3 linked regions of the Homo sapiens genome follow. The protein of the gene in region 3 interacts with the protein of the main gene of each other region in a biochemical or structural test. Each region holds a gene or a part of one and is shown on either strand. Other genes may lie near its edges. The genes, in order: CHAF1B, TLK1 and ASF1A.

Region 1 (3,657 bases), on a different chromosome or scaffold from region 3:
AGTGTGTCCCGCTCCATGGAAGCCCTGGTCTCAGGCACCTCCAGCTTTACCGTCTCCCTGCACACACCGGGAGCCTGGTAGGCTTCGAGCAGAAGCCGAGGTCCCATCAAGGGTCCAGACTTTCCGTGCCTCCTTTGTTTTCATCGAGTCTGGGCCGCTTTAGCTCTGGGGGACTGCCCTGAGCGTCTCCAGGCGTCTCTGCAACATTAACAAACATAAGGTTGGCAAGTAAATGAAGAATTCTGGAAGTCAAGGGCTGACATTTACAGAATACAGAGCCAAGACACGGAACTGAGCTGCCTGGCAAGATCCTATACTGATATAATGGAAGTTCTATAGAGTGGCTCTCAACCAGGGGCGATTTTGCCTCTCAAGGGACAGTGGGCAATGTCTAGTGGCATTTTTGAATGTCATGGGCAAGCTGGGCGCGGTGGCTCACGCCTGTAATCGCAGCACTTTGGGAGGCTGAGGCGGGTGGATCATTTGAGGCCAGGAGTTCAAGACCAGCCTGGCCAACGTGGTGAAACCCCCGACTCTACTAAAAATACAAAAATTACCCGGGTGTGATGGCGCACGCCTGTAGTCCCGGCTACTCGGGAGGCCGAGGCAGGAGAATTGCTTGAACGTGGGAGGTGGAGGCTGCAGTGAGCCGAAATCGTGCCACTGCATTCCAGCCTGGGCGACAGAGCAAGACTGCATCTCAAAAAAAAGAAAAAAAAAAAAAGAATGTCATGGGCAAGAAGTAGCAGCCGGGGATGCTGTTAAACATCGCATAATACACAGGACAGTCCTCCACAACAAAGAATTGCCTGGCCCACAAGGTCAGCAGTCATCAGGTGGAGAAACCTGAGCTAGACAATCTCCTGCTGAACCCACTCCCTGGCTCACCAGGATGCTCTCACTGGCCAGGTGCCCCCTGCTGAGGCGTAAACAGGCAGCCGGCGGGTTTAAACAATGGTTCCAATAAGATGCATCCCTGCTGTCTCAGAACTGACTTAAAATTAGGCGGCATTAATTTCCAAAAGAACAAAAGAAAAGATACTCTACCTTTCATTATATTAAACCAGTAACAATATTACTTACCTGACTGAATTTCTTCTGTAGAAGGGGTGGAAATCACACTGGTTGGTACAGAACTTGGTGGAGTGTCCGTCTTTAAGGGTGTTAAGTTTATTCTCCTTGATTTAAAAAAAAAAAAGTAGAGGGGTGATGGCTCATTAGTATCACAGGAATTGTTTATGTATGATACCAACCTTCAAAACTACCAAAGGAAATACTTAAATTTTCAGCTGAACTTCTGGTTCAAGGCATTAAATAGTAAGATGTGCCCACTTGTTTAATAACTGAGGATTACATTCATGTATTAAGTTAAACCATCACATTTATAACAGTCAACTTAAACCATAACCAGTCATCGAAAAGTTTCAAAACCTGTGTTCTGTTCATTACCGACGGTCTTGTGAACACTCTGCTGGCTGCTGTAAAAGGCAGTCAGATATGGTTTCTATATATAGAAAGCGTCGAAACACAGGTAATACTTTTTTAAAATCCAGAGCGTTGGGCCGGGCAAGATGGTTCGCACCTGTAATCCCAGCACTTTGGCGGGCTGAGGCGGGCAGATCACTTGAGGTCAGGAGTTTTCGACCAGCTTGACCAACATGGCAAAACCTCGTCTCTACTAAAAATGCAAAAAGTCAGCCAGGCATGGTGGCGCATGCCTGTAATCCCAGCTACCTGAGAGGCTGAGGTAGGAGAATCACTTGAACCCAGAAGGCGGAGGTTGCAGTGAGCAGAGAGCATGCCATCGCACTCCAGCCCGGGCAACAGAGCAAGACCCTGTCTCAAATGAATAAATAAATAAATAAAAACCCAGAGTCTTAATTTTCAACAACTATTCTTGTTTGCAAAAGATTACATCTTCAAGAAGCTTGGTAAATAATTCAGAAGAAATCAAGAGGGGAAAAATAATTTAATACCAAAAATAGTTCAAGGAATACCTTCCGTCACATAAAAACAAACAGAAAAATTGTAAAATACATTGCTAATCTGCAGAAAGAAATGAGAGATTTTAAGAGGGCGTTAAAGCCAGCAACCCATACACATATTATGAACTTGCCAAAGAAGACCTATTGGCGCAGGAGAGGCTGAGAGGCACAGGGCGCTTCTGTCCAGCTCACCATCCCCACCACTCCCCTCTGCATCCCCCTTCCCAGCTCTCCTCGTGACTCAGTTTATGGGAAGGTTGGGAGGCAGAGGGCTTGGTGGAGAAGGAACTATACAGGATCAGAGGGGTAACTGGACATCAGCTGCAGGGGAAGAATGGAAACAGGAGGCTGTGCTGCCTGACGGCAGAAGGATGTGCTAAGTGGCTCTGTATCCAGTAGAAGTGGCAGACACAGGCGTGCGTGCCAGCCACACTGATGTAAGCAGGGAAGAAACGACTCTGCACCTCCTGGGGATTATTTGTTATCAGATCAGGACCTCCGTTTCTCACCGACCAGGCTGCTGGAGACATCAAACGCAGTCTCAGGAAGACACTCCTGGAATTGCCTACATCCTGGGCAGAACAGCATAAATAAAAAATGGGACCTGCTTCCTGTCCTTGGGGGCTCACAACCAGCAGGGGAACTGGAGCATCAAAGCACCTGCTATGGAATCTGATGTGTGGTGACAAGGGAAAGGCTGAAGGGCCACAAAGACTGCAAACAGAGAGGGTACATTGAAATGGGTCTTTCAGGAGACTCCTGGCATCACCAAGAGGAAGAGGTGTCCAGGGCTTCCCCAGAGAAGGGAAGGACAGAGGCCTCAAAGGGCAGAGAGTGCTCTGGGAAGATGACATTCAGGACTAGGCCGGAGATGAAGGCCACAGACTCAGGAGAGAGAGTGGCCACAGTCCTGGATGACAGGCTGCAGCCAAATCACAGTCTGTGTGTGTGCATAGGAGCCTGGGCTTTATCTGACAGGCAGAAACTGGAGGAACAAACAGAGGCCTATATGCAAGAAATGACACTCTCGGATTTGAAGTTAAGAATCTCTCTGGCAACCTACTGGCATGAAGCATTCACCGCCTGAAATTTCACCTGCAGCAGGGTGGGAGCGTTCTGTCTGCATTTTGTGTTTCATTTTGCAATGACATCTTGTTCCAACAAGTTCTTACCGGGGTGTTGTCTTGCTCCAGGCTTGCAGTGTGTTCAGAGTGACCCTCCGGGATGGGTGGGCTTTTGTGTTTTGACTACTGGGCTGCAGGGTCTTCTCCTCCGAAGGCCCCGGCAAGGGGCTTTTGACAGCAGGAGTGATGGAGGGAGGGTCCCTGATGACTGTTGGGGCTGGGGCCTGTCTGGCCTGAGGGGGAGTCGTGCCGGGGCTGCTGGGGTCTTGGGTTCTGCTGGCAGGGGTTCCCTCTACCGGTCTGGGTCCTGGCGAAGACCCTCGATGTGTCTGACTCTTGGTTTTCTTTGCTGTATCAGGAGTTCTCATGTTCAAAACTGGCTTCTCTTTCAAAGGAATTCCAAGTTCATCTTTCTCAAATGTCACAAATGAGCAGTAACCGTCCGTGGAAGAAATGGCCAGGAAGGCACCATCGCTGGACCTTCGTCCCCAAAACAGGGAAAAGTTACAGACCTTACCAACACTCTCACATCTACTTAGAAGAGGGAA
Region 2 (3,442 bases), on a different chromosome or scaffold from region 3:
CATACAAATGACACTATGAGGAACTTCAGTTCACAAACAGTTCTTAACCACGTCTTGTGTAAAAAAAAAAAAAAAAAAAAAAGAAAAAGAAAACAAACACTCAAATGCTCTCAAACTTAAGTGTGCATCTGGAAGCAAATTCAAAGATATCATGCCAATCTTGGAGGAAAGTCAGTAAGTAATTATGCTTGAAGAAGGGGGTGTAGGGGATGCTGTCAGCCCAGCCATGTGTAGGTTTCCTGAAGAATTTGATCTTCTCATGTGTGGGAGAAGGTATGGGTCATTTGCCAGCTGGTGCACATCAAATCGATCTTCTTTTCGATATGCCAAACAGCGTCTTATAAATGCCTCAAAAAGAGAAAGGAAATGTTAGCAATTAATGATCTTTTTCCCTTCTAAATATCAATCAACTGAATCAGCAGAAGGATGGACACATTTAAGACATAAGTAGATCTCATTTTATTGGAAGTTCAAACCTTAAAAAAAAAATTCTGTAGCTAGAAAATTCTCACTCCAAATGCAACTCACTGCTTGAAGCCCCTGCAGTGGTTCACTTTACAGTCTAAATTACTACTGCAACCATTTGAACTTATACTGGAAAGTTGTTTCTGCTTACGAAATTCTGAAGACTTTTTTCTAGCATTTTTCTTCTGCTAAACAGTCCTCCCACCCTCATCCCATTTTGTTATCACTTCAGTTTAGCAAAGGGTAAGATGCCATTTTCAACCATTATTTTTTTTTCCTACTGACATAAAGACTTTCTTTAGATGAAGAGATCACTGAAGGGACACTTTCATTAGGGACATTGTTTCCCAGGTTAACCCTATGCATCATTACACTCCTGGAAAAGCTAAATAAACAGAATATAATCACTATTTTTTTTTTCTCAAACCAATTTTACTCAGTTTTTCTTTGAGAATAGCCTCTTACAAAAAAAAAAAAAACCTTTCCTGAAGTGTAACACATTTTTAGAAATGCACACAAATCGTTAAGTGCATAGCACAAAGTAAATACATCTATGTAACTGGCAACCAGATCAAGAAAAAGAACCTCTGAATCCCCCTCATGCCCAGTTCCAGGCACTGGCTCTGTCCCCAGTCGAACCTGGGTTAACCTTTATCTTGACTTCTAAAACCATAGTTGAGTTTTGATTGTTTGAATTTTATATAAATAGAATTATAAATTATGTTCTCCTTTGCCAGGCCTCTTTCACCCAATATTAAATTTTGAGGTTCATCCTTTTTTGGGGGGGGAGGGAACAGATAAAATATTCTCAGGAGGTAACTGGTAATTGTTTCCCTTTCTTAATGCTGACACTAGAAATTAATACATACCATTAAACAGAAGTATAATCACATTAAAAGGTAACTATTTTGCACTTTCTTTGCTTTGAAATTCATTAGAAGTATATTTTTCTCTAAAAATATACCTAGCTATTCTCATTTTACCATAGCTTACTGTTTATTGGAAGTCAATCTGATCCCTTAGAGGACTTATCTTTTTTATCTTTAACAAAGTTTCAGAGATCACTTTGAAAAATGATTAAGAGGGAAAAAAACATCAAGACTGATATGTTAGAGTTTGAGGAGTGGAAAGGCTATCAATAGCAAGGTTAAGGTTAAGTCTGCAACAAATAATGTACTTAAAGATGCCCACACCAAGTCAGGGAAAGTACTTGGCAAAGGTATCTTCTGTAGGGATACAGAATATAGAGATATTATATATTACATTAAAATATTAAAATTTATATCATATAATTGTATCATATTAATATTATATCCCCCCAACAACCCCTTAACCCTTCCTGGATTCCAGATCTCTAAAAGGTGACTGTGGTGCCTATTAAGAGCCTAAGGAGAGAACCAGGAATGGCTAAATGAGACTTTGCCTTTGGCAACTCCACTCCTCCTGGTCTTTTCAGTCAGTATTAAACAAACAGATCATGAATCAACTAAATTCATTTAATTTCTGTTCTCAATGAGGCTACAGACAGAAAATAAGACAAGATTTAGATGTCAGCACAGTTAAAATATTTTTAAAGGAGTCATATTTATCTTACAAAAATAATTCATTTTGCTTTCAAATAAGAATATTTATCTCTTTTGTTTTTTTGAGAATGGGTCTTGCTATGTCGCCCATGCAGGAGTGCAGTGGTGCGATCTCACCTCACTGCAACCTCTACCTCTTGGTCTCAAGCGATCCTCCCAGCTCAGCATCCTGAGAAGCTGAAACTAAAGGCACGGGCCCCTACACCGGGCTAATTTTTGTATTTTTAGTAGAGATGGGGTTTCACCATGTTGCCCAGGCTGGTCTCGAACTCCTGGGCTCAGGCAATCTGCCTGCCTGGGCCTCCCAAATTGCTGGATTACAGGTGTGAGCCACCGCGCATGGCCTATTTGGTTTTTTTGAGACAGGGTGTCACTCTGTCCCCCAGGTTTGAGTGCAGCGGTATCGTCATGGCTCACTGCAGCCTTGACCTCCCTGAGCTCAGGTGATCCTCCCACCTCAGACTCCCAAGCAACTGAGACTCTAGATGTGTGCCACCACGCCTGGCTAATTTTTGTATTTTTAGTAGAGACCGGGTTTCACCATGTTGGTCAGGCTGGTCTCAAACTCCTGACCTCAGATGATCTGCCCGCCTTGGCCTCCCAAAGTGCTGGGATTACAGGTGTGAGCCACCACGCCCAGCCTTATTATTACTTTTAATATTTCTTATATACTTATATATCTCAGTATTAACATAAGCAGATAAAATAATACATAAAAGGTAATGATGAGCCCAGATCTTGTGATTTTTCCCTAATTTTCAAAGTAGCAGCTGATGAACATAAACAATCAGAGACCATAGCTTAAAAGATAAAAACTATAGCAACCAGAGGCTGATGCAACTCCTTCTCTGAAAGTAAATCACCAGCCCCTGCTGGACAGATCCCCTGCAGCAGCGAGTCTTGTGACTTTACTTACTGGAAAGTACTTACCTTGTTGTCAGCACAACTGATGAAAGAAAAGTTACTTCACAAAACTCATTTACAAAAATTTAATACCTTGGCTTCACTGCTTACAACCGGTTTTACAGGGAACTGGACTTCTGTGGCTTTTAATATTGTATTTTCTTGAAGAATGTCTTGTTGAGATTGATTGTGACCAAATGGCTTAAAAAAAAAATTAAATGTTGAGATACTTTTCTCACAAAATATTTAAACACAGATATCATTTCTGTTTAAGCGAATTCCCAAAACCGAAAATCCAAATATCTTGTGTTCTAAAATCTTCCTCAGTTATTTGAAACCTGAGATGAATTCTCATACAAACAAGCTATAATTGATAGCAGGCCAAGAAAGCCTACCTAACAGATCTTCAACATAGATTAAACACTGTAAGAAGAAGAAAATAATGCTGTTGCAATATAAGATAAAAACATAAATTTAAAACTTTATTCTGA
Region 3 (2,917 bases):
GTCCTGTTTCTTTTGTGCTATATAAGGTGCTTCAGGGATAACAAATTGGATCAATGGAAGGTACAACAAGGGTGAAAAATAGTCCGGCCTTATTATCAGAAAGAACATGAGAACATTCTATTCTATTGTCATGTAATTTTTCTTGCATGGTTCAACTTCATTTACTCTGCACTCTCACAAAATCACCAGTTACCAAACTGTTATAGTTCCCAGTGAAAAATCAGAAAATACTAAGTATCTTTAAGAATGCTGAATCCTAGATTTCAGCTTCTCACTCAGAATTTAAGCTGTTTTCAGTACCAGAAATATTTAAGACTGTTAGTTTAACTTCTAAGAATAGCAGATAAAGCGTATAGGTGTTTTGAGATAACCGTATTCATAGGAAAAACAAACATAAAACTTTCATAATTTTGGGAAGAGTTACACACAAAAATATCATCATTGAATAATTAGTACAACAAAAATGCATTTGTTTGTCCTAAAGGTTGAAATGAACAGAATCATGATGGGAATAATCAATATGGGAAATGCTATAAAGAAAGCCATAAACAAAGGCCTGTCTTACAAGAAGTACTTTCTCTGGGCGTGGTGGCTCACACCTGTAATCCCAGCACTTTGGGAGGTCAAGGTAGGCAGATCACTTGAGGTCAGGAGTTGGAGACTACCCTGGCCAACATGGTGAAACTCCACCTCTACTAAAAATACAAAAATTATCTGGGCGTGTTGGTATACACCTGTAGTCCCAGCTACTTGGGAGGCTGAGACAGGAGAATCGCTTGAACCTAGGAGGCAGAGGTTGCAGTGAGCCGAGATCATGCCACTGCGCTCCAGCCTGAGCAACAGAGCAGGAAACCATCTCAGAAAAAAAAGAGGTACTTTCATTTTTCTAAACCAGAAATGCTCAAGGTGTCTGCCTACATTAATTACTAATGACTCATCTGAAGGTAGGGTTTGAAGTCATCCATGGTAATGGAACAATAATTAGTTTGCCCAGTTGGCATAAGGACCTCATATTTATTTTATCTCAAAGCCATTTTAATAGTATACTATGAAATTGCAATAGCAACTGCTTTAAAAATTGCATAGTAAAAGTAGTTAAAAAGGAATAGTAAGAACATTACCTTAGAAAAGTCTGGTTTTACTGGTGGATTTTCCCTTAATTCTGTCTCAGTATATTCATTATTTACATAATAGCCAACTCTAATAAATTCTTGTCCTCGATAGGTACAAGTAATTAGCACAACAGTTACGCCTACTGCATCTGCATCTGGAATGAGTCCTGGATTAGGTGCATCAGCCTAGAATAAATTAAAAAGAAAAGAAACACACACACACAAAAGGCTGTTAGTGGCAGGCAAGACTGGAGTTTCAGTTACCTAGAACCATCAGTTGAGGATGCAACAAGAAAAACTTGGAAATCATACTGGGAAGGAAAATGCTCATTTCTGACTGACTTATAATAAGCTGGAAAAGACAGTTCATGTTTTGCCACAATATATGTAAGGACCCTTGATACTTGAAAGCATGACTACACTTGTAAAAGGAAGAAATTCTGGCTACACTGCATGGTGGTTCATGAAAGGATTATACACTATTCATTATAAAACCTTTATAGTCAGCAATTGATTTTAACCTTTTCAGTCATAATTTTCAGACCTAAATTAGTAAGTATTAAATGATCTCCTCATAGACTGTTGGCCACAAATGTTTATTATACCAGTTTCCCTCTTCAACCCAGGATACTTATATTCTCATACCCACTCAACCACCCCCACAGGTATTCTAATAGTAAATTAGTATAAAACTGAAAATGAGGTTGGGTGTGGTTGCTTACACTTGTAATCCCAGCACTTTGGGAGGCCAAGGTGGGTGGATCATGAGGTCAAGAGATTGAGACCATCCTGGCCAACATGATGAAACCCCATCTCTATTAAAAACACAAAAATTAGCTGGGCATGGTGGCGGGTGCCTGTAGTCCCAGCTACTTGGGAGGCTGAGGCAGGAGAATCACTTGAACCGAGGAGGTGGAAGTTGCAGTGAGCTGAGATCGCACTACTGCACTCCAGCCTGGCGACAGAGTGAGACTCCGTCTCAAACAAAACAAAACAAAACTGAAAATGAGATGGAAATAGCTACATAGCAGATTTTCAAAAAATATTAATAATCCTCTATTATGAATAGTTACTTTGCTAGACTCTACAATATAGTATGCTCTTTAAACCACACATAATGTGGAAACCAGTGAAGGTAAGGATTGCTTTAGGCAGATGTCAAAGACCTTGTTTTAAATCAAGCTATTGTAAGGTGAACCTTGAGGAATGCAGAAAGTAAACTGAGTTAGACTAGACTAAGAGCATGAGCGAAGGGCAGGGCCCCATCCGTGGTAGGGTGCAGGTAGTAATGAGACGACCGGATGGAAGGAGCCAGACTGGGGAACACAGGCAGTGATGGCTGAGGCATCTGAGGCAGCCATTCTGGGTGGTAAATGGATCAAGTCCCAGCAAATTAGCTTACCTGTTGCCAGGGCACCAAGGAATATTCCTGGGCCTAGATGAGCACTTTAGCCAATGCCTTAGCTTGTGAAAATTGAAGACTGTTGTTTACTGTATGCCTAACACAGGTAGATGATACAAAAAGGCATAAAATCGCTACCTAGTGTCCTAGGCTAAAAACCTCAGTCAGCTTCACTCCCTTATCTCCTACATCTAGTCAGTCTCAACATTTTTTTCATTTCTGGAGGCTGAATTCATGTCATCTCCTATCTGGAATATTGCTTAGAATTTTCTAACTGATCTCCCCAGCTCTAGCCTATCATTTGCACTGCTACCAGCATTAACACAGATATGTTCTTTCTCTTTGGTTTTAAAACCTCAGATTATTAAAACCCTCAGAAGAGTATTCCCTTTTCTAAGGGATA

Evidence for each region.
Region 1: the proteins of ASF1A (region 3) and CHAF1B form a complex in vitro, tested with the Homo sapiens proteins (2 studies listed by BioGRID and IntAct).
Region 2: of the proteins of ASF1A (region 3) and TLK1, one has a biochemical effect on the other in vitro, tested with the Homo sapiens proteins (3 studies listed by BioGRID).

The regions. Positions count from the first base shown.
Region 1 is NC_000021.9:36,412,816-36,416,472, reverse strand, and holds part of CHAF1B (chromatin assembly factor 1 subunit B), read right to left. Parts: intron 3,590-3,657; coding exon 3,158-3,589; intron 1,179-3,157; coding exon 1,084-1,178; intron 199-1,083; coding exon 107-198; 3' UTR 1-106. UniProt on the Homo sapiens protein: Acts as a component of the histone chaperone complex chromatin assembly factor 1 (CAF-1), which assembles histone octamers onto DNA during replication and repair.
Region 2 is NC_000002.12:170,993,609-170,997,050, forward strand, and holds part of TLK1 (serine/threonine-protein kinase tousled-like 1), read right to left. Parts: intron 3,153-3,442; coding exon 3,045-3,152; intron 349-3,044; coding exon 172-348; 3' UTR 1-171. UniProt on the Homo sapiens protein: Rapidly and transiently inhibited by phosphorylation following the generation of DNA double-stranded breaks during S-phase. This is cell cycle checkpoint and ATM-pathway dependent and appears to regulate processes involved in chromatin assembly.
Region 3 is NC_000006.12:118,904,033-118,906,949, reverse strand, and holds part of ASF1A (histone chaperone ASF1A), read right to left. Parts: intron 1,299-2,917; coding exon 1,122-1,298; intron 1-1,121. UniProt on the Homo sapiens protein: Histone chaperone that facilitates histone deposition and histone exchange and removal during nucleosome assembly and disassembly.